Linked DNA regions of Homo sapiens: region 1 is linked to region 2. Evidence: fine-mapped expression QTL. A gene starts in region 2. The other region holds a variant in brackets. All regions are shown on one strand. Distances are from middle to middle.

What was found.
Region 1: its variant is fine-mapped to the expression of TGM4 in testis (GTEx, PIP above 0.99).

What each region holds. Positions count from the first base shown.
Region 1 is chr3:44,894,568-44,902,567 of GRCh38, reverse strand. It overlaps TGM4 (transglutaminase 4), which reads right to left. Exons shown (of 14, transcript NM_003241.4): 6 at 5,752-5,859; 7 at 870-1,044; 8 at 637-775. Among named protein-coding and RNA genes, the nearest start is that of TGM4, 24 kb to the right of the region's middle. RefSeq lists an enhancer at 3,479-4,020. The variant T/C (reference allele first, on the strand shown) is at 3,458.
Region 2 is chr3:44,862,529-44,878,141 of GRCh38, reverse strand. TGM4 (transglutaminase 4) reads right to left here and starts at 3,534. Exons shown (of 14, transcript NM_003241.4): 1 at 3,445-3,534. The coding sequence starts at 3,463. It overlaps TMEM42 (transmembrane protein 42), which reads right to left. Exons shown (of 3, transcript NM_144638.3): 2 at 13,799-13,945; 3 at 12,478-13,102. The coding sequence ends at 12,962. It also overlaps a transcript of KIF15 not described here and the pseudogene PPIAP18.

The DNA.
Region 1 (8,000 bases), 28 kb before region 2:
AGTGCAGTGGTGCGATCTCGGCTCACTGCAACCTCTGCCTCCCGGGTTCAAGTGATTCTCCTGCCTCAGCCTACCAAGTAGCTGGGATTACAGGCACGTGCCACTATGCCCAGCTAATTTTTGTATTTTTAGTAGAGATGGGGTTTCACCATGGCCAGGATGGTCACAATCTCCTGACCTCGTGATCCACCCACCTCAGCCTCCCAAAGTGCTGGGATTACAGGCATGTGCCACCATGCCTGGCCAAGAATCTGCATTTTTTAACAATCACCCCCAGGTGATTCCAGCACAGATTGTCCAAGGCCAAATGTTGAAAAATATTGAATTTCAGGAACAGTGAGCACTGGCCTACAACTTGAATCAGTCTCTGAGGGAGGCTGAAGGGGCCCCACAGCTCAGCAGAATCTCTGGGTTGGGAGGGCCTGGAGACTGGGCTTGGGCTAAAAAACTCCTGGGATGCCACGCATGGTGGCTTGCACCTGGAATCACAGCTACCTGGGAGGCTAAGGCAGGAGGACTGCTTGACACCAGTTCAAGACCAGCCTGGGCAAACTAGCGAGAGACCCTGTTTCTAAAAAGAAAAAAGAAAATTCCTGGGAGAAGGAGACAGGGCAGGTTGAGAAGGAGGAACCCTACCAGACAGAGTCGTGGGTCATACTGGTGATTTTCTCGCCATTCTCATTCACATAGGTGTCCACCGTGAGGTTCCTTTCTGTGTCGTGAGCTGAATCGAAGCCTGTCACACTGCGTGCTGGGATGCCCAACGCTCTCAGCACTGAAATGATCCAGGGTGGGGTGGTTGGCAACTGTGGGGGCTGGGAGTCCCTCCCTTGGGACCTCTCCCCTCAGCCCCTGGATCTGCCACTTACCTGTAGTCAGGATCCCAGCAAACACCCAGCACTGGCCAAAGCACACAGCCTGCTTCGTGTTGTAGTACTGCTGCAGGATCGGGGCACTGCCTGTCCACTTGTATGGGGCTGTGCCACCTTCGTAGTCCCCAGTCCAATTCCCAATGAGCACGCCCTGGCCTTTCTCAAAGCTCATCTGCCACACACGTAGGGGTGGGGTCAGTGTCCGCCCCTCAGAAGAACAAGGTGCTGCCAGCCCAGCTTGGCCACCCAGCCCCCAAAGTGGACACCTCATAATGTCTCAGAGTACTTGGAGGACGTGGGCTTTCCAGAACAGGTGGGGTGCCCAGAAGGGCCAAGGAGCATGCCAGCTGTTTGAGTGACCGGGGAGGATGCTCACTGCTGTATGCCTCAGTTTCCTCCCTTGTAAAATGATGATCATTACAACACCTACCTTTAGGTTGGTTTTGTTTGTTTTTTGAGAGAGGATCTTGCTCTGTAGCCCAGGCTGGAGTACAGTGGTGTGAGCTCGGCTCACTGCAGCCTCAACTTCCTGGGCTCAGGTGATCCTCCCACCTCAGCCACCCAGGTAATTGGGACTACAGGCGCACGCCACCACACTTGGTTAATTTTTGTAGTTTTTTGTAGAGGCAGGGTTTCACCATGTTGGCCAGGTTGGTTTCAAACTCCTGAGCTCAAGTAATCCAACTGTCTCAACCTCCCAAAGTGCTGGGATTACAGGTGTGAATCACTATGCCCGGTCCCTTTAGGTTGTTTTGAGGATGACCTGGGTTAAGCCTATGCCTGTTTTGGCATCTTCCGTTTTTAAATTGTCAGTGGCCTGCACCTCTCTTAACCCCTGAGGAGCCCTGGCCAGACGATCCTTTCCACCTTATTAAAACCAGAGAGAGGACAAAGCCTTGTGAGTTCACCTTTGAAAGCACTTAATGGAATCTCTAAAGAAGGTTGTACAGGCAGGTGCAGAGGAACCCTCCGAAAACATGAAAGGTGACACAGTCACAAATCTTTGATCTGGTGGTGGCCTGGCTTTGACCACATCCACCCATCCCCTCCTGGCCTGCACACTAACGTCCTTTGCAAACCTCATCATGCCTTGTGAAAAGCACAGTTACAGTGCCTCATGTTTCCCAGGATGTTAAAGATGTCCGTTTGTTTAACTAAAACCCTTATAGTATGCTACAATTTCTGAATCCTGTTTGGGAGTTTGTTCAGTTTTAATTTACAAGAAGTCTCAAACAATGGTGTGGCCTGGGCCTCCCGTGACCTCTCAGGTCCTGTGGCTGGACAAGCCTCTTCATTCATCAAAATCAGAGAGAGAGCAGAGGCCACCGCCAGACTCAAGAGTGGTCAGACGGAATGAAAACAGATGAAAGAGAGACAGGCAAAGGGTCCTAGGCAAAGCAGGAAATACCTCCCATCTTAACTGTCACCCAGCCACTGCCCTGGTCCGGCTGCTGCGTCCTCCTGCGAAATTAAGCGGCCCCAGCCTGTCAGCGCCTGCTAGACACAAGCCGTCTATAGAGCAATGTAGGGGAGGGCGGAGATAGGGAAAGAAGGGGAGTGACGCTGAGCCCAAAGGACATCAGGACTTTCAAAACTCCTGATGCACGAGGCTCTATCCCCCTGCGGAACAAAGCACATTTCTGTGCCCAGGCATGGTAGGCAGTCACCGAGATGGTCCCCAGTAATCCCCTCTCCTAGACCCAGTGACTCACTTCTAACCAACAGAATGCAGCAAAAGTGATGGCTGTCACTTCTGAAATGAGGTGACAAAGGCTGTGGCTTCCAGCCTGGGCACCCCCTCTCTTATTTGCTCACTCTGATGGAAGCTGGCTGCCATGCTATGAGCTGCCCTGACCTGAGGCTGCTCGCAGCTAGGTGAGTGAGCCTGGAAGTAGGTCCTCCCCCAGAGATCTTCAGCCAGAACATTCAGCTAAACCACACCTGGATTCCTGACCCACAGACATGGGAGATAATGGATGTTTGTTGTTTCAGCCACAGTGTCTTGGGGTAACTTATTACTTAGCAATGGATAATGAACGCACTCACTGCTGCGCCGAGGTTCCCTGCCTGGTGTGGGAGTCGTCTTTAGGCGACCCTGCCAGAAGCTCTGCCTGCTAGTCAGAAATTCACAGATCCAGGAGGCCCATGGATAGCCACGAATTTCTAAGGGTGAAGGGGCAACCTTTATAGGGAACCTGGAAAAGGGGAGGGCCTCTGAAGTGGGCTGGGGTTCTCAGACTCCCGAGCGTGGAAGCTAATCTGCAGTAACCTAATTTTGGAAGTGACTCCTGGAACACCTTGGAGTTCTGAATTGCCCATGCTTGCCTCACAGCCTGAGGAGGTGGCTGGCAGGGCACTAGGAAGGAGCACTGCACCAGGAGTCAGCACAGCTGGCTCAACCACCACTTCACTGTGCAGCCTTTGGCGAACTGCCCCTTCTCCCCCGGCTGGTTTCCTCATCACTGAAACAAGCAGCGGCTTAGCCCATTGCTTCCCAAACCCCACCACGCATAAGAATGACCTGGGAATAGGCTACTCGTGGGCCCAAAGCGTGTCAGACCCTGGGCTGGGCACTTGTTGTGTGT[T/C]ATTGAGACCTCATAATCACCCAAAAGATGAGATAACAGAGGCCCAAAGAGGTTTAGAATCTTGTCCAGAGTCATGGAGCTTGAAAGGAGAAGCAGCCAGGTACGTGCCAGTCCACCTGCACCACTGAGAACTAGAGCCCCTCATGGCAAGTTCTGCCTGCTAATGACTTGGTCTCCTTTACTTGTTCTTTCTCAGCATCCAGCCTGGCCACCTGCTGGCCCCTGGGCTAGAGAATGAACATACCAGCATGGGGGTGAAGGGGAAAGAGCAGGCATGGTGGACTCCTGGGCCCCAGAGAGTCAGCGTGAGGGCCCCCGGTAATCCCATCAGCCCCTAAGGTGCAGGGGAACAGGAGCCCCAGCATTTATGAGGCATACCACGTGCAACAGACACAGGCTCACAGCCACTCTGCAAGGAGGGCATTTCAAGAGCCCCTACTTAAGATCCGTCTGTCGCAGCAGTTCAGCTCACAGACTCACCTGGAGATGAACATACGTCTGCCTGCCACCCACAGATGGCAAGAGCAGCCAGTTGGCTGAACTCAGTGGACCTTTGGAGAGTGGTCCTCACTGGCATTGGGAGATCCCTGGGAGTTCCAAGTTCTGTGATCAAAACTACTTGCATAATAATCCCAAGGTAATATTTGCCTTCTTCACTCTCATTCTCTCATAAGTGTACAAAGGATGAAAAATCGTGGTTTCAGATTCCACATTGCAACCAACTTTAAGAAACTGCCACTTACAGAGCTTCAGTATAGTATCTTCCATTATCTGAAAAGGCTATGGGAATATTCCTGCCCCCGCCCCGCTTCTTTTTTTTTTTTTTTTTTGAGACAGAGTCTCGCTCTGTCACCCAGGCTGGAGTACAGTGGTGCGATCTTGGCTCACTGCAACCTCTGCCTCTCGGGTTCAAGTGATTCTCCTGCCTCAGCCTCCCCAGTAGCTGGGACTACAGGTGTGTGCCACCACACCCAGCTAATTTTTTGTATTTTTAGTAGAGATGGGGTTTCACCATGTTAGCCAGGATGGTCTCGATCTCCTGACCTCGTGATCTGCCTGCCTCGGCCTCCCAAAGTGCTGGGATTACAGGCCTGAGCCACCACGCCCGGCCGTCCTCTGCCTTTTTAAATCTACGTATCCGTGTGAGGCCAGATGTTCATATATTCCAACTAAAACAATGAATGCAGAAGCAGATATGAAATTCCAGCTGACTTCTAGCAAGCCAGACATTAAAGAGATTTGCAAAAATGGAAAACAATGCCACTCTTCTCACTACATATTTTATGCTTCGAAAAACATAGGTTTTTAAAAATAAAAATACGTTATTTATGTTAACATGTAATGGAATTATTCTTTTAGAATAAATAGTTTTAACCTTTTCAGTTTTAATTTCTAATACAGTAAATATTGGTAAATATAAACCATATAAATACAACTTATTTGGGGTCCTTAATAATTTTTAAAAGTGCAAAGAGGTCTTGAAACCAAAATATTTGAGAACTGCCACTCTGAACAAACTGACTTCCAAGTGGCCAGGCAGAATAGAGTGACCAACCATCCTGTTTGCCCAAGACTGAGGGGTTTCCTGGAACACAGTATTCTTAGTGCTAAAACCAGAAAAGTCCCAAGTGAACTGCAACAGTTTGCTCACCCAACTGGAGCCCAGCTTGCAGGTAGAAAGAGGACCTTCTGTATTAATATCATTTTGCAGATGGGGGAAACTGAGGCTCAGACAGTTGAAGCCATTTACACCTAACGTCAGCCCATAAGTGGCAGGGCTGGAGTTCAGACTCAGGTCTGACTTGAAAGCCGGGCGCGGTGGCCCACGCCTGTAATCCCAGCACTTTGGGAGTCCGAGGCGGGTGGATCACGAGGTCAGGAGTTCAAGACCAGCCTGGCCAAGATGGTGAAACCCCGTCTCTACTAAAAATACAAAAAATTAGCCGGGCGTGGTGGCATGTGCCTGTAATCCCAGCTACTCCGGAGGCTGAGGCAGAGAATTGCTTAAAACCTGGATGGGTGGAGGTTGCAGTGAGCCAAGATCGTGCCACTGCACTCCAGCCAGGGTGACAGAATGAGACTCTGTCTCAAAAAAAAAAAAAAAAAAAAAGAAAAGAAAACCTGCGCTCAGAACAGATTTCAGCAATGTCTATTTCTTAATAGTTTTGAACAATTGATTGGCCATAGCACAGTGGTGTACTTCAAAGAGCTTACAGTTTAGATGAGGAAAAACAGAAAAAGGCTGAGCAATTGGCAAGTACAAGACAGCATCAGCCCAGGCTTTCCATACCTACCATAGCACACATGGCCCTGCACACCAGCACGGGGTCCCTCCTATCTGTGGGCTTGAGGGAGCTCTCAGTCAGCAGGGAAATGCAGCAGTCCAGGACATTTTTCTCAAACTATTTTGGGAAATGAAGAAAGAGGCAGTTAAGACTTTGCCCTGTGTCAGAAACTTAACACATACCATCTAATTTGCATGTCACAGCCACCCTGTAGCGTAACCCATCTCCCCTGCCTACAGTCTCATAAAAAAGTCCACCACAGCACTGAAAATTAGAAACCATTTAAATGTCCTGCCACAGGACAGTAGTTAAGTAAGTTTATAGAGCTCTAGCATGCAGCCACTAAAAGGAAGTATAAGAAGTTTTTAATACCATGGGGAAAATTCCTTTGTAATCAAGTCAAATAAATGAAACAGGCCGGGTGCGGTGGCTCACGCCTGTAATCCCAACACTTTGGGAGGCCGAGGCAGGTGGATCACCTGAGGTCGGATGCTCAAGACCAGCCTGACCAACATGGAGAAACCCTGTCTCTACTAAAAATACAAAATTAGCCGGGCGTGGTGGTGCATGCCTGTAATCCCAGCTACTCGGGAAGCTGAGTCAGGAGAATCGCTTGAACTCAGGAGGCGGAGGTTGCAGTGAGCCAAGATCGTGCCATTGCACTCCAGCCTGGGCAACAAGAGCAAAACTCTGTCTCAAAAAAATAATAATAATAAAAATAAATAAATAAATGAATAAATGAAACAGGCTACAAAATTGTGAACAAATAGCATTACAACTATGTAAGCCTTAGTAATAGATAATAGAATAAAATACACTAAAATGTTAAGTCATTATCACTGAGGGAGGAGGTTATGAATAATTTTATTTTCTTTCCACATTTCTGTGTTTCCTAAGTCTTTTGTGATAAGCACGTTACTTTTGAAATTCTATTTACTGTAAGCCACTTTATCAAGATATCATTTATATCTCATAAAATTTACCATCTAAACTGGATGATTCAATCTGTAATTATCCATAAATATCTGTATATTTACAGAGTTGAAGTACATGTGTTACTTTTGTAACCTGAGGGAAAAACTACCAAAATAAAAGGAATAGACCACAATGTTTATGTTCCAGAAGGAGTCTGGGGGAGTTTTGTGGTTACAATTCTTTGAGATTCTTTTTATTTTTATTTTATTTTTTATTTTTTTGAGAGAGGGTACAGTACAGTGGCACAATCACTGCTCACTGAAGCCTTAGCCTTCTGGACTCAAGTGATCCACCCACCTCCCTCTCCAACTGCAGTCCCCCCTCCCCACAGCTCTGCCTGGGACTATAGGCATGCATCACCATGCCCAGCTAATTTGTTTATTTTTTATAGAGACCAGGTCTCCCTATGTTGCCCAGGCTGGCCTTGAACTCCTGGCCTCAAGCCATCCTCCCACCTTGGCCTCCCAAAGTGCTGAGATTACAGGTGTGAGCCTCCATACCCAGTCACTCTTTGGGCTTCTTAAAATCACCGCTTGATTTTCTTTTTTTCTTTTTCAAGATGGAGTCTCACTCTGTCGCTCAGGCTGGAGTACAGTGGCGCCATCTCGGCTCACTGCAACCTCCGTCTCCCGGGTTCAAGTGATTCTCCTGCCTCAGCCTCCCAAGTAGCTGGGATTACAGGCACGTGCCACCACGCCTGGCTAATGTTTTGTATTTTTAGTAGAGACGGGGTTTCACTGTGTTAGCCAGGATGATCTCGATCTCCGGGCCTCATGATCTGCCTGCTTCGGCCTCCCAAAGTGCTGGGATTACAGGTGTGAGCCACCGTGCCCGGCCCACCCCTTGATTTTCTAAGAGGGGAAACTCCCTAGGATTCAGGTGATTCCTTCTTCCCTACCCCTCCTGCGGTTCGTTTGGCTGTCTCCTTGCCAGCTACTCCCTTCCATTTCATTTCCCTCTGGTCCTCATGTGTGAGGAGAGGATGCTGAGGGCCTTCTAGGAATGAGTGAGGGTGGAGAGGGCACTCGGCGCACCTTGCACAGAGCACACAGTGGGAGCCTCGCCAGCTGGGAGTCCTTCCTCCCTTGTCCCTACTTCCATCCTGTCCTAGGCGTCCAGACCCAGGGGGAGGAGGAGAAACTCAAGCAGCTGTGAAATGCCTGGCATTTCCCAGGAGTTTTTTGTTGTCAAATCTTGGGGGAGGGGAGGTGGGAAGCATCTGGTGTCTGGCATCCTCACACCCCAGCTTCTCTGCCTCATGGCTGCACGAAGGCATTGGCCCT
Region 2 (15,613 bases):
TCTCATTCTGTTTCCCAGGCTGGAGTGCAATGGTGTGATCACAGCTCACTGCAGCCTCGACCTCCTGGGCTGAAGCAATCCTCTCACCTCATCCTCCTGAGTAGCTGGCACTACAGGCATGCATCACCACACCCAGCTAATTTTTTCATTTTTTGTGAAGAAGGGGTCTCCTTATGTTGCCCAGGCTGGTCTCAACCTTGTTACTTTTTAGTAGCTATTATCCCCCTGGATGGACATGTAGACCATTTAAAATCTTATATGCTACAATGTACTTCCTTGTACATGTATCTTTGCACTCATGTGTGACAATATTTGTAAGAGAAATCTTCCAAAGCAGAATTGCTGTGTCACAGGATATGGGCATCTTTAATTTCAGCAAATGTTGCCAGAGAGCCTTCTAGCGACTGCACCAGTGATACTCCTACAAAAAGATGAGAAGATGCCTTTTTAAAGCTATTTACTATTAAACTTTTAATCTTGGCTAATCTGATAAATGAAAAAATGAAATCTCATTGCTGTTTTGCTTTTATATAACCTTTTTTTTTTTTAAGAGACAGAGTCTTGGCCTGTCACCCAGGCTGAAGTGCAGTGTTGCAATCATGGCTCACTGCAGCCTTGAACCTGAGTAGCTGAGTAGCTGGAACTACCGATATGCACCACCATGTCTGGCTAATTTTTATTTTTATTTATTTATTTATTTTTGAGACAAAGTCTCGCTCTGTTGCCCAGACTGGAGTGCAGTCTCAGCTCACTGCAGCCTCCGCCTCCCAGGTTCAAGCAATTCTCATGCCTCAGTCACCCAAGTAGCTGGGATTACCGGTGTACCCCACCACACCCGGCTAATTTTTGTATTTTTTAGTAGAGACGGGGTTTCACCATGATGGCCAGGCTTGTCCCTAACTTCTGATCTCAAGTGATCTGCCCACCTTGGCTTCCCAAAGTGCTGGGATTACAGGCATGAGCCACCTTGCTGGGCCACGGCTAATTTTTAAATTGTTTTGTGGAGACAGGGTCTCACTATGTTTTCCAGGCTGGTCTCGAACTCCTGGGCTCAAGCAATCCTCCTACCTCAGCCTCCCAAATTTTGGGGATTATAGGCATGAACCACCATACCTGGCCTGCTGTTTCAGTTTTATTTCATGACCACCCTCGTTACAAGTAAGGTTGAGCATCTTTTCATATATTACAATTTATATTTCTTTTTCTTTGAACTACCTAATACTGCTCTTTGTCCATGTATATTTTGGGATGTTGGTCATTTTCTTATAGATCTGAGAGCTCTTTTTATACTACAGAACAGCATTTGCTTCTCATATGTGTTGAAAGTACCCTTCACAGTTCCATTACCTTCTGACTCTGGAGGTTTTGTCTTACACATATTTTTAATTTTTCTGGAGTCAGTTTTACTGTTCTTTTCCTTTATGTTTCTAGGTTTTCTATTTTCCTTTGTAACACCTTCTCTACTCTAAGATTATTTTTCATATTGCCTTCATTTTCTTCTATTGCCTTTACAGTTTCGTCTTCGACCTTTCTGGGATTCGTTGTGGGATAAGCCATGAGATAGATATCTGGCTTTGTTTTTCTCTAAATACTAACCAGTTGTCCTAATACCATAAAGTGCACAATTTCTCATTTCCTCCATTTATATGAAATCCTACCTTTATCCCACACATATCACCATCTTCCAGGTCCCTATTTGGATGTCCTGACCTCCTAGAGTGGTTGGAAGAACAAATGAAATCATATTCATGAAAACACCATGGAGTCATCACAACTTGCTAATGTTGTAAGGTGGCATGTGATGGTTACTTGCACAAGCCCATCAGAAAGGACACCTCAGGGAGCGTCAGCTCCCCTCACCAACACCCCAACACTGGTGGCCAGGAGATGACTGTCTTTGGTGATTTAGACCTTGAGAGTAAAGTCAAATTGTGCCCAGCAGGGAGGCAGCATAGTGTGGCATGAAATGAACACACGCCGGGTTTGTGTCCCAGCTCTGCCACCCATGGCTGGGACCTCAGTCAAGTCATCAAACCTCCCCAGTGAACAGGTCACACCTCTTGAAAATGACAGTGTGGGTCAGGACTACCTTTCCTTCAGGTAGTCCTCAGTAATTTATATAGTGCTTTCACGGGATTGATGTAACCTGCCCAAAGCCACAGGGCTATTTAGACATGAATCTTCTCTCAAATCAGCAGGTGCTTCCCATCACACCACACCACCCTTTCTCAGTCCTAAGGACTCTGTACCCTCCAAGACTGAGTCTAGCTGAGGCGTCAGCCATCTAAGGAGGAATTCAAAACTCTGTGGCCTTGGGACTAAAAAGAAGAGTCTGATTTATTTCGCAATGTCACCCTCCAAAAAAGAAGGTGGAAACTAGGAGGGTCTGGCTTAGTCCCTTTGCAGAGTTTCAAAGCAGCCATTCCTTGGCTTATCAAGCAGCTTCTCAAGCAAGAGAGAAGGCTGCTGAGCAAACCCTGCTGGGAGGTTACAGAGGGCTTGTGGGCTGGGGAGTCAGCAGAGGGGTTCAAACCCAGCCTCGTTGTTCCCTAGCAGCACCCGGACTCCCTGAAGTAAAACTGAGGGCTCTGGTGTCTGCTCTTGGTGGTGGTAGGCGGCTGCATCCTCATGGGACACAGAGCCTGGCACATGACTCCGCTCTGCTATTCCCCACTCTGAGAAGCAATGACACTGCTGACAGCAGCAGACAGACCCTCTGCAGTAGGGAAATCCATCAGGTGACCTTGAGAAAGGACAGGACACATTGAGAGACATTCTACAAAATAACTGGTCTGTACTCTTCAAAAGTGTTGAAGTCACAAAACTCCAAGAATGACAGAAGAACTATTCCAGACAAAGGAGACCGAAGAGGCACAACAACGGAATGCAAAGCCTAACCCAGGATTTTCTTCTGCTATAAATGACATTATTGGGACAGTTGATGAAATCTGCATAAAATCTGTGGGTTGGATAACAGTATTGAAATGGTGTTCATGTCCTGGTCTTCATAATTGTATTGGTTACGTAAGAGAATGTCCTTGTCTTTAGGAAATACACACCAAAATATTTAATAATGTAATATCTGCAACTTACTCTCAAGAGTTCAAAAAATATATATTTGTCTATCTATCTGTCTATATCATCTATCTGTCCACTGATCGAGAAGGATAAAGCAAATGCAGTAATAATTTAGGGAATCTGGATAAAGGATATATGGAAATTCTTCTTTTTATTCTTGCAATCTTTTTGTAAATCTGAAATTATGCCTAAATGAAAAGTTTGTGGGTTTTCTAAAAAGGGATGAGACAGAAAGCAAGCAGCACCAGGGCCACAAGTCAGGGTGAGAGGGCAATGGCCCCAGGCACCCGGCAGAGGCAAGAGAGCAGTTTAGGGCCAGCTGGCTGAAGGGGCATGTGGGGCTCCATGGAGATTTCACCCACTCACCTTTTGATGCATCCATCATCCCTTCAGATTCTCTCCTGCAATGCCAGGGAAGACTCTATCTCTGATGCCTGGTGCTTCCACACAGTCGGTCCTCAGGGGAGGAAACAGCCCTTTTTATGTGATCCTGGGCTAGATGTGGCCTTGCTATGGCTGCCAAGGGGCGGGGTTTGGGAAGGCGATGTTGATTAGAAATAATAAAATCCCGGAATCTTCCATATCAGACCCAGGAAATCAGGAGCCAAGATGAGCTGATGTAAAAGGGACAGACAACGGACAATGGCACCTCCTTGTCTGTTATATGAGCCTAACAGTGGGTGACCAAAAGCCAGGACCCTATGACCTACACCACATGTGGCCTGACATTCTGGTTACTATCAAGCTTAAGTCTAGGAACCCAGGCTAACCTTTACTGACTTTAGGGTTTTCTTCTTCTTCTCTTTTCTTCAAGTTGAAAAAGTAAGAGATGCTTGTGAGTTTTTTGTTTTACATTTTGAATATATAATGCATCCACATGGTTCAAAATGGAAAAAAATGCCCCCTGTCCACCTTGTTGAATCCTACTACCAGTTTCTTTTAGATCTTTCCAGAGATGTTGTATGCACTGAGAAGCAAATAATGTACTATTATTATTATTTTGTTATTTAGTTTTTATTTCATAATCATAAACTTAACTCTGCAATCCAGCTAGGCATGGAAGGGAACAAGGAAAACATGGAACCCAAAGGGAACCGCAGCGAGAGCACAAAGATTCTAGGATACTGGGAGCAAATGGGGTGGAGGGTGCTCCCCTGAGCTACAGAAGGAATGGTCTGGTGGTTAAGATAAAACACAAGTCAAACTTATAAGAGCTGTCCACAGTCAGCAATGGTGATCTTCTGGCCGGTCTTGCCATTCCTGGACACAAAGCACTCCATGGCCTCCACAATATTCATGCCTTCACCTTGCCAAAGACCACAAGCTTGCCATCCAACCACTCAGTCTTGGCAGTGCAGATTAAAAACTGGGAACCATTTGTATTGGGTCCAGCATTTGCCATGGACAACATGCCAGGACCTGTATGCTTTAGGATGAAGTTCTCATCATCAAATTTCTCCCCATAGATGGACTTGCCACCAGTGCCATTATGGCGTATGAAGTCACCACCCTGACACATAAACCCTGGAATAATTCTGTGAAAGCAGGAACTCTTATAACCAAATCCTTTCTCTCCAGTGCTCAGAGCACAAAAGTTTTCTGCTGGCTTTGGAACCTTGTCTGCAAACAGCTTGAAGGAGACGCAGGTCTAAAGGCTTGCCGTCAACGGTGATGTTGAAGAACACGGTGGGGTTGACGATGGCTGATGTTACAGGGCTCCTGGCGGCAGTGGCATCTGCAAAGCAAATAATGTATTATTTTGTTTTATTTACACAATGAGAGCATATCACTGCATTGCCCAGGCTGGTCTGGAATGCCTAGGCTCAAGGGATCCGCCCCACCTTCACCTCCCAAAGTACTGGGATTACAGGTGTGAGCCACCACGCCTGGCAAGATGGAGCTGTTCCTATTGCACATGGAGAGGTGGCCCAGTCTTTTCACAGCTGCACATATTCTGTTTGTGTGGATGGTCCCTAATTTATGTAACTCACCTCCCACCCATAGGCATCTGGGTTGCTTCCAATATTTCCTTATTACAATCAGTGTTGCAAAGAATAAGGTTATACAGAGATCATTTTACCCTCACATGAGTGTATCTATAGGAAGAATTGAATGCCTTGAAGTGGAAATGTTGGGCCAAAAAGCATAAGCTTTTGTAATTTTAATGGCTATCTGCTCTGCTCTCCACAGGGGCACTTGTGGTATTTTTCAATGATGTTATGTCTACTGAAAGGAGCCAGCCTGGCATAGTAGCAGAAATGCCAGAGGAAGAGAGGAGACTCCTGACACTGAAACCCCAACACCACAGTAACTTGCCGTGTGTCACTGGGAATGTTGTCTTCATTAGCTCCTTACCTGAAAAGTGAGGGGGCTGAATAATGATGCCAACGGTCTCTTCCAGACCAAAAGCCCAGGGATGGGCAATTGCCTTTGCTGGCTTTAAGGCAAGCCAGAGAGCAATGACCCTGGTTACTCTGAATAACAATAATGAAGTCAGAGGTTTTTGCTGTTCTGCAGGCAAGCATCTCAGCACCGCATCCCTAAATATAATAGAACAAACCAAGCCCTGAAGTGCACATGGCATTTACGAAAAGTCTTGGCTGGGTTCTGTCTGCAGAGAAGCCCTAGGCCCTATGATTACAGGCTCAGGAGTGGGAGAAGGATGCTTGCTTTTCTCTGTATTTCCTTTTACATCATCAGAATTTAGCACCATGTGCATGAATTACCTATTTAAGAATAAATTCACTACTTAAATGGAAAAAGCCTCTAAATAAAAGTCCTGGCCTAGGGGTGAGAGGGTCCGGGTTTTAGTTGCTTCACCTCTCTGAGCTTCTTTCATCATTTTTGACAAATAAGGGGCTTGTGCAAGATGAGCTTTCGCCAGTGCCTTCCAGGCCAGAGAATCCAGGGTACCAGAGTGAGTATAAAAGTGTCTAAAAGAAATAGACTTTGGGTCAGACAGAACTGGGCCTACATCCTGGGTCCTCTACAGATCCACTGTGTGACCTTGGGAAGTTACTTCTCTGTGCCTCTGTTTCTTCATCTGGGAGGTGGGAAATAATAACACCCACGCCACAGGTCAAGTGTCTGAAGCAGGATGCTGTGAAGAGGCAAAGGCATTCAAAATTCTCTGCAAGAAATGAGTTACACCGCGGACCTTACAAAGGACCCCCCCCATCCCAACAACCTCATTTCACAGCTGGAAAAAGTGCAGCCTAGAGAGAGGCAGCCACCTGGGCATCAGGAGAGGATCCCCGTGAGCCTCCCTTCCCTCTTCCTGCAGCAGAACTTCCGGGCCTCAGCAGAGTCGGCCCTTATTTAGTTCCTTGTGCATGTGGCATTTTATCTGTCAGCTGGTCCCAAAGGATCATCTTTTCTCATGTTTCCTGTCTGGGGCCACAGCTGACACCATGGTCTAGTCACAGGCCACTGGGGCCATCAGCATCCCCCTCCCCCACCAGCTGCTGAACTGCAGCCACTGTATTGCACTAGCACCTGGTGGCCAACTCCAGGCATATTGGGATCAGAGGCAGCCCACTCAAGACCCTCTGCTCTCTGCTCTCCAAGAGGACCAGACACAGGCCCCACCATGGGACAGGAGGCTCTGAATGTGCTGTCCCAGAAAAGTTGGCATGGTCTACACTTCACATTAATCCACAGATGATGGAGCTGGGGAGGAGGGAGAAAAGGAAAAATCAGGCAAGAAGAGCCTGAAAACCACCAGGTAAGGTGGGGAACAGAAGACACGTTTCAAGATGAAGTTCATAGAGGACCTTAGCCAGGAATGGAATCTTCTCATTTTGTGTCCCTAGCCCATAGCATGGCACAGAGTGCTCAGCAGATGAGGGAATGCATGAATAAATGAACAAATAAGCAAACAGGACAGGGTGCTCAGGTGGAAGCCTGGGAGCGGCCCCATGCCTGTGCCTGTGGGGCAGGTGCCTCCTGCAGAGGTCAGGGGAGGCTGTGTCCTCTTCTCCCAACGCATGCTGGGAGTCCCTTTTGGAAGGAAAGCCCAATACACATTGGTTTTGGGGATTCAAGCCTAATCCCTGACCCACCTCTGCATCCACCCCCCAATTCTGAGGATGAAAGAACAACTGAGGCCCTGTTGGACTCTAGGCACCACAGCTGCTGTTCATGGTGCTAAGCTCGGAGCTAAATCATAAAGATAGGCATCCTGATGCATCCCCGCCCCCTTTTTTTGTGTGGAGACAGGGAGGAGTTAGTAAATACGCATCCACAGATTTGTGGGAGCAAAATCTTTTCTTCTTATATCTGAAACTATAAATTCATCTCTCATCTGACTCCTATTATATATGTAAACAACTTTATAGGAGAAAAATAAAAGAATCCAATAAACCCCGAAGTCACCTCTTTTTAAGCCACTCCTAGCGCTTGCCATTGTACACAAATGTGTTTACACTGCATGGAGCAAACCTGGCACTTCAGGCCATGCCTGGCAGGCTGCCTTGTGGACACTGTCTAGGATCCGCCTATTTCAAATGCTCACCCCTGTTCGTGGGCACGTGATATTCTACCATATTTGCCTAACCATTTCTCAACTATCAGGCAACTAACTGCTGCTAGCAGTAATGCAGCTAGGAACCCTGTTGCCTAAATTGTGTATTTTTTTCTTTTGAATTTTCCCCCTGGTGTAGCATTAGGTCTAACTGCATAGGGGACTGACTTTTAAACTCTGGTGAGGGGCTACCCTGTGAGGGACCATGCTGGTGACAGTCAGGACTCACTGCTGCAGGCCTCCAGGCAAGAAGAACTTTGGGGACCCTATTGAAGACCAGCAAGGGAACACGGAAGCAGTACAGACAAGACAGGCTCTCAGCCAGGCTATCTGGGGTCCCATCTCAGCTCAATCTATGACAAGTTGAGTGGATTTGGGGGAAATCTGAGCCCTCCAAGCCCTTGTTTCCCAAAGGAACTGGATGGCTCTGGAATTTGGAGTAATAATTATCTGCCCAGTCCAGCCCTGGAGCCAATTCCACTGGAACCAACATGGTCTGTCTCACCTCCCACCCTAACCTATCTGATTCACCACACCTCCAGACTCTGGGCTGGGCCCTGCTATTCCTTATCCAGGCCCAAAGAGCCCAGAGCACACATCGGCTAGCAAAGACGATCTTGGGGTTTTCTTGCTAAACAACAGCAGTAAGATTTGTATGTCTAATGATTGTTAAATGTGATCGTTCCCATTTATCAGTGAAGTATTGTCTAAAAACATTTATGAAACCTTACAAAAATTCAAAAAAAAACAGCAATGAAAACTTACATCTCCCTCATCAAGTTCAAGAAATAAAACTTATGGGTTATAACTGAAGCTCTCAGCCCCTTATATATCCCTTCCCAACCCCAATTTCCTTTCCTCCCTCCCCAAAGTAACCACCACTCTGAGTTTGGTATTTAAGTTCCCTTGCATATTTAAAAATACTTACTAAACGTGAATATCTAAAATAATAAGTAGTATTGAAGGTTTTAAATTTTTTTGTAAAATTATCATACTTAACACTCCCTTCTACTTTTTTTCACTCTACATTATGATTTTGAGATTTTTTCATGTAATTTTTCCATGTAATTCATGCTTGTCACCACTGTATAGTGTTCAATACACTGTATGCTATAACTTCTCTATTCTCCCATTGATATTAGATTGTTTTACATTTTTCTCAGTTATAAACACTGCTGCAACAAGCATGTGTGTTCATGTCTCCTTGTGCACAAGTGAGAGTTTCCAGGACTGGAATTGCTGGCTCAAACAGTAGGCACATCTTCTGTTTTGTCAGATGATAGTAAAATGTTTCCAGAGGGTTATACTAATTTATACTTCCAGCAGTAGCACATGGGAATTCACAGTGATCCACAACATTGGCCTTGCTTGTTCAACTTTGTAACTTTTGCCAATCTTGTATGAAATGGCATCAATGGCATCTTACTGAGTTCCCCCTAGCTTTATTGAGGTATAGTTTATATCCAATAAAATTCACCCACTTTAAGTATAGAATGTTAGTTTTATACAGTTGTGTAATGACCACTATGATCAAGATGTAGAAAAGAGCCATCATCCTAAAAAGTTCCTTCTTGCCCTGATTCCCAGCCCTAAGCAACCACTGATCTGCCTTCTGTCACTGAAGTTTTGCCTTTTTTTCTTTTTAATTACATATAAATGGAACTATATGGTATATATTCTTTTTGGGTCTGGCTTCTTTCACTTAGCATAATTATTTTATGATTCTCCTTGTGATAGCATGTATCAATACTCTCTTCCTTTTTACTGAAGAGTAGTATTCCATAGATGAATATGGATGGCCATTTGGGTTGTATCAGTCAGCTCATGCCGCCATAACAAATACCACAGACTGCATGACCTAAACAACAGATATTTATTTTCTCACAGTTCTGCAGGCTGGGAAGTCCATGATCAATGTGCTGGCAAATTCAGGTTCTGATGAGGGCCCTTTTCCTGGCTTGCCTTCTCTCCTTCTTGCTATGTCCTCAAATGACCTCTCCTCTGTACATGTTATCTCATATTGTATCATAGTTATATCAGCAATTCCATTCCTAGGTATATACCCAATAGAATTGAAAACATGTTCACACAAAAACGTGTACACAATTGTTCAAAGCAGCATTATTCTAATAGAAAATTAGAATAGAATAGAAAAGGGAAACAAGCCAAATGTCTATCAAAAGATGAATGTATAAACATAATGTGGTAGATCCACACAATGGAGTATTATTCAGTCATAAAAAGGAATGAATAACTGATTCATGCTACAACATGAATGAGCCTTGAAAACACTATGCTAGGTGAAAAAAGACCCAAAAGGCCATATATTGATGTTGTATAATCCATTTATATGAAATGTCCACAACAGGCAAATCTATAGACAGAAAGTGGATCCTTGATTGCCATGGGCCTGGGGGAGGATGGAATACAAAATGACTGCTAATGGGTATGAGAATTTCTTTTGGAGTGATAAAAATGTTCTGGAATTAGCTAGCGGTAATGGTCGAAAACTTTGTGAATCTACTAAAATACTACTGAATTGCACACTTTTAAAAAGAGTAAGTTAAAAAATAAAATTAAACGAAAGGAATGACCTATCAGGCCTTTGAACCTGGATGTCAAATTGCCAGCTCCAAGCAAACAAAGTTCAATCCATCATCCAAGATGCACACCAAAAAGACAAATATTGATATAGTATTGATATAGTTTATTCTTATCAATAAACCTCTGAAATGAGGAAAATAAATACAGTGAACGTTTCCTCAACTTTTTAGATGACTATAGAGTTGTATCTTCCTGCTTTTTGAAGAATGACTGATCTTCCTCTTAGAAAAAATCTTACATCTTGTACAAATATACGTCTTCTACAAATACATCTTGTACATCTTGTACAAATACAGGCATATTTGTTGAATTGAGTGATAGGGTTCCACGTCAACACCAACCATCTCTATGCATTAAGCAAGTGTCTGGATGGGAGGCCAGGTCCTCTCAGGACAATGCTTGCTCCAAGATGGACTTCTTTCTGCCCTTTTCACTAACTGCCCAGGGAGGCCGACCACCAGCTATCAGCAGCCTTCAGGTCTGGCCTTGGCTGGGTGTCTGACCCATATGGTGAACACACCCTGGAAAGCCTTGAATATCCTTCAGCTTCTTCACTGGTAGAATGGTGGGGTCAGACTAGATCAGGGAGATCAACACTAGAGCCCCTAAGAAAAGGTAGGTGGCTGGTGACCAAAGGGTTCTGAGGTTTGGGCATGCTGAGTCACAGTATGGAACAGGCCCCTTACTGCAGGGCCTCTCTGAGTTTTCAGGTGTTGGTGTGGGAAGCAGGACAGAGGTAGGGACTGAGCTGAGCCCAGTCAGATCGGGCTGACATTGTGGTTCTGGCACTCCTCAGCTGTGTGATGTCAGGCAAATTATTCCACTTCCCCAAGCCTTAGTTTCCTCACCTCTAATACAGGAACAAGAGTAACTCCCTCACGGGTTGGCTGGGAGGCAATGTGTCAAAGTGGAGCTAAATGATTAACATTCTGTGAATTACAGCTTTGTCCTGGCCCCCATGGGAGCTCAAGGGTTTTGAAGAGCAGGAGTTTGCCAGCGAGAGGTGAAGGTAAAGGGAACCCAAGGCAAGGGTAAGAGCAAGTACAAAACATGTTGGCAGGACTGGACATGGTGGATTTGAGAATGGCTGACCTGCAGATGTCTGGGGGGACTCAGCATGGTGGGGCTAGCATGAGGGAGATGGGTACTAAGGAGTCATTGCGGAAGAGAACTCTTGTTGGAGTGGTGGGCTAGGGCCAGATCCCCATCAGAAGGAGCCGTGGAATGGTTTTAGTAAGCTCATTCTGTCAATTGTGCTGACCACAGTAAGGGAGGAGAGCAATGAAGGTGCTACATGGGCGAGGAGGAGGGTCTGGACAAGACCCTTCGCTCTCCTAGCCTCCTGGCTACCAGGTCCCTCTCAACTGCAGGAAATGTATGAAGAAGACTTGGGGCCAGAGATCAGACTCAGGAGAGCTGAGAGGGCCCTCGGACACCCCAGGGGAGAAGTGAGGCAGGTAAGTGCCGGGCTTCAGGCTCTGTGCTGGGAAAGTGTGCAGGCAGCACACAGCCCACTTTGAACTAGGAATTACATTCACATGGTCTAAGATACAAAAAGAACAAGGGGGCCAGGTGCAGTGGCTCACGCCTGTAATCCCAGCACTTTGGGAGGCTGAGGCGGGCAGATCACGAGGTCAGGAGATCGAGACTATCCTGGATAACATGGTGAAACCCCATCTCTACTAAAAATAAAAAAAATTAGCTGGGCATGGTGGCGGGTGCCTGTAGTCCCAGCTACTCGGGAAGCTGAGGCAGGAGAATGGCGCGAACCCGGGAGGCAGAGCTTGCCGTGAGCTGAGATTGCGCCACTGCACTCCAGCCTGGGTGACAGAGCGAGACTGTCTCAAAAAAAAAAAACCCAAAAAAACAAAAAAACAAAAAACAAAAAAAAACCAAAGGGGAATCTGAGAAAGAAAAGCAAATGACAGAAGAGCCCTAAAGGTAAACGCTAGAGGAACAGAGTGGCAGGGAATGGAGGGACCTCTGAACCACTTTCTTTCCCAAGTAAAACAAGGTCTCCAAAGGGAGGTCAAACTTTTCTCCTTGAGAGCACCAGGAGAATGAACAGACCCTGTGCAGTTCAAAGAGCCTTAGCCTGTGTGACCTCAGGAAGTAACCACAAGATCAAGCTCTAGCAGGTGTCAGAGCAACCGAAGCCACAAGGCTTCTGTACCTGCCTCACTCTCCTGCCTCCTCCACATTGGGATTTCAGCTCACTCTGGCTCCCTCTTACTCCAAAGGGAAGGAAAGAATTAAGATACCGTACCTGGTAGTTTTAACTTACAAAAAACGTATTTATTAATCCAGTTTTCCTCTTCTTGCCATAATACATAAGCATGACACAGATGGCCTGATACATCAGCATGGAACTGTCAGAAAGCCCCACCAGTCACTGCTTCTAGAGTTACATGACTGGCTTTTGTTTGGCAACAGGACAATAATTACAGCGTGGTTTCAAGTACCATACACAAAGCAGACCAACCCCAGGATCTCCAGCATCTGCGAAGGCTCACTGGGGTAGGCCTGGGAGGAAGAATCCAAAGCACTGTACAGATGATCAAAACACTTCCGGTAGAACACTGCTGCAGCTGCACCTCTCCTTACAGAGCCAGAGCCTGCTCCATCAGAGGCCTGCTTCCCTTGGCTGATGGTCAGAAGGCTGCACAACTGGATCGCCCTAGGATACAGTCCCACATGACATCCCAAGGCTGGGCCACCATCATGATCTTTCCAGCTGGTCCGTCTAGCCAAGTGGTGCTACTGCTGCTTGTGTGGAAGGGGCTTCCAGGTGGGTGGGAGCTTCCTGTGGATTAGGGTGAGTCCGCAGAGAATAAGGAACACTCCTCCCCACCACAAGACCTCCTGGCACTCTCCATACAGCACATAGCCCAGGAAGGCCTGCGAGACAAAGATAGCTGTGAGGGACTCAACTTCAGCAGGTGGGCACAACCTCACTCTCCTGGGACTGACTTCCTTCTAAGGGTGCCAGGAGGAAAGGTCTGGAGCCAGAAGCCTTGGGCTTGAAACCTAGCTGTCACCTTCATCAAGTCACTCTATTCAATCTCCCCTGCATGAGTGGAGAGGCTACCTCCCTCACTGCACTGGACCTCAGCAAAGTACACAAGAAAGACCCAGCAGATGCCAGCAGGTAGACACAGCAGGTACATGGTATTTGTTTCTCCCTCAACTCAAGATTGACTACGCTCAGCTCCATCTTGTCAACCTCAGACTACACAGGGCAGAAAAGTTTCTGGGAATCCCAACCCTCTAAATGCCATGGAGCCTTGAGTACACAGAACCCTAGGAAACAGCTAGGATGCACAGTGACTTCAGAATGAGGGCTCCACCCTGGAGGAACAGCAAGCAAGTAGGCTTTTTACTGTCAGGCTTCACTCATATCTAACTTAAGAATTCTTCCATGATTAGAATTACATTTGCTCCATGAATAGAGCACTCATCCAGGGGTCAAGCCACAGCCCAACCTCTGCTTCAGTTCCTGTCCTTTCTCCTGTCTGGGAAAGGAGGGGTTATCCAAAGACAACTCACCCAGAACCCAGATTTAGGACAAGAGCACCACACCCTCAGGCTACTCACCGAGCTGAGGATATTTGAAAAAGTCACTGTGACAGATGCAATGGCTGAAGACATGGAGAAACTGAGGCCCCGGCTAAAGAAGGTCCACATCAGAGAATTGGTGCTCGCCATCACAATAATGCCTAAGACGCATAAACCCATGCTCACCTGCAGGAGAAAGTGTCACTGCAGCCACGTCCACCCTGGGCAGCAACCTGCAGACCCCCTCAAAGCACACCCAGGACTGTGGTTGCTGGCACCCAGGCTCCTACTGAGCTCCCACTACAGCTCAGAGGGCCTCAGAGCTTTCCTGCACAGGGCTTCACTTAACCCTCAGTGGGCAGCAGACCCATCTTACAAATAAAGCAAATTCAGAGAAGATACTCATTTGGCCACCTTGCTGGCCATATGATCTTGGGAAGAAGCAAAATGCTAATCCAAAGCCAGTATTTTCTACTGAACACCGGCCCCTTATTGGTCCCACAATGACCAGTGCTTGAAGATCAGTCCCAGAGGGCCAAGTAGTTCTTACTCCGTAGGTAGTAAGCCTAGGGTAGAGTTCTTATTTCTTGAGATCAGGCAAAGCATGAATTAGCAATGTCTGCTCTGTATTCCCACCCCCAAATCCTATACAAGTTACAGCCCACTAAGGCTGACCCCCTCTGGGTATTCTTGAGCTTTTACTCTGTGTTAGGTCCTGGGCTGTGTTTAAGCATTCTCATTTATTCCTTAACTTCATTTTACAGATAAAGAGCCAGGGGCATTAAGTAACCTTCCTAAAGTGCTACAGCGGTGAGAGCCACCAGGCTTCACAAGCAGGCAGTGTACCTCCATGCTCTTAACTAGGGCACAGCCTTGCCTGAGGGAAACACCACCTCAGACTATTTAGTGATCCCAGACATCCCTTGGAGAACTTGCAGGTATTTTCTTTCTTTTTTTTTAAAGGAGAAAGTCTCAAGAGAAGAGAAGATCTTTAGAAGCCTCCTACACAAAGGATATGCAGTCCCCCTTGCTTGGTGGTGAGTTAGAAACCTGCCTGGAGACAAGGCGGCGGGGGGGGGGGGTGCGGAATCTAAATATACTTATTACTTGTAATGGTTTCTCAGCAGCTGAACACATAGTGTCTTGAGAAAAAGGTGCTTGCTTATAACTTACACCAGGGTGTTCAATTTTTTGGCTTCCCTGGGCCACACTGGAAGAACTGTCTTGGGTCACACATATAATACACTAACACTAATGATATATGATGAGCTAAAAAAAAAATAATAAATCGCAAAAAAATTCATGTTTTAAATTTGCAAATTTGCGTTGGGCCGCGAGTTGGACAACCTTGTCTTACACAAAGCAGCATATGGGCCAGTGGCAACCTGCTTAAAGGGTTATGAAGGTCTAGTTCCTGACAACAAACTTCACGGCCCATACAAAGTTATTCATTTTACTTTCGACCACTTACCCCATGAACTACACCCAATGGGATACTAACCTGAAGCATGGCAGCTACTACTGGATTAGCCCTAAATAGGCTTAACCCTAAATAATCAGTGACCACTGTCCAGGTCAGAGGCTAACCTTGGGCTGCAGACGCAATGAAACCCCTATAGCAAGCAGAGGCTGGTCTACGACGTGGGAGGGAGAGGCAGAGATACACCTTAGCAGACGCCAGGATGCAAGTTTAGGAGTTCTCAGCGTCAGGAAAACATCCAGAACGTCTCTGTCAGTATCCTCTTATGCCTACAGTATCCCAAACTCCCAATTTTCCTGGTAGTGGGGCAGACTGGTCATCTGGTCACAACACCCGTTAATTACGGAGTAAAGGGATGGGCAAGAGGCTTCTCA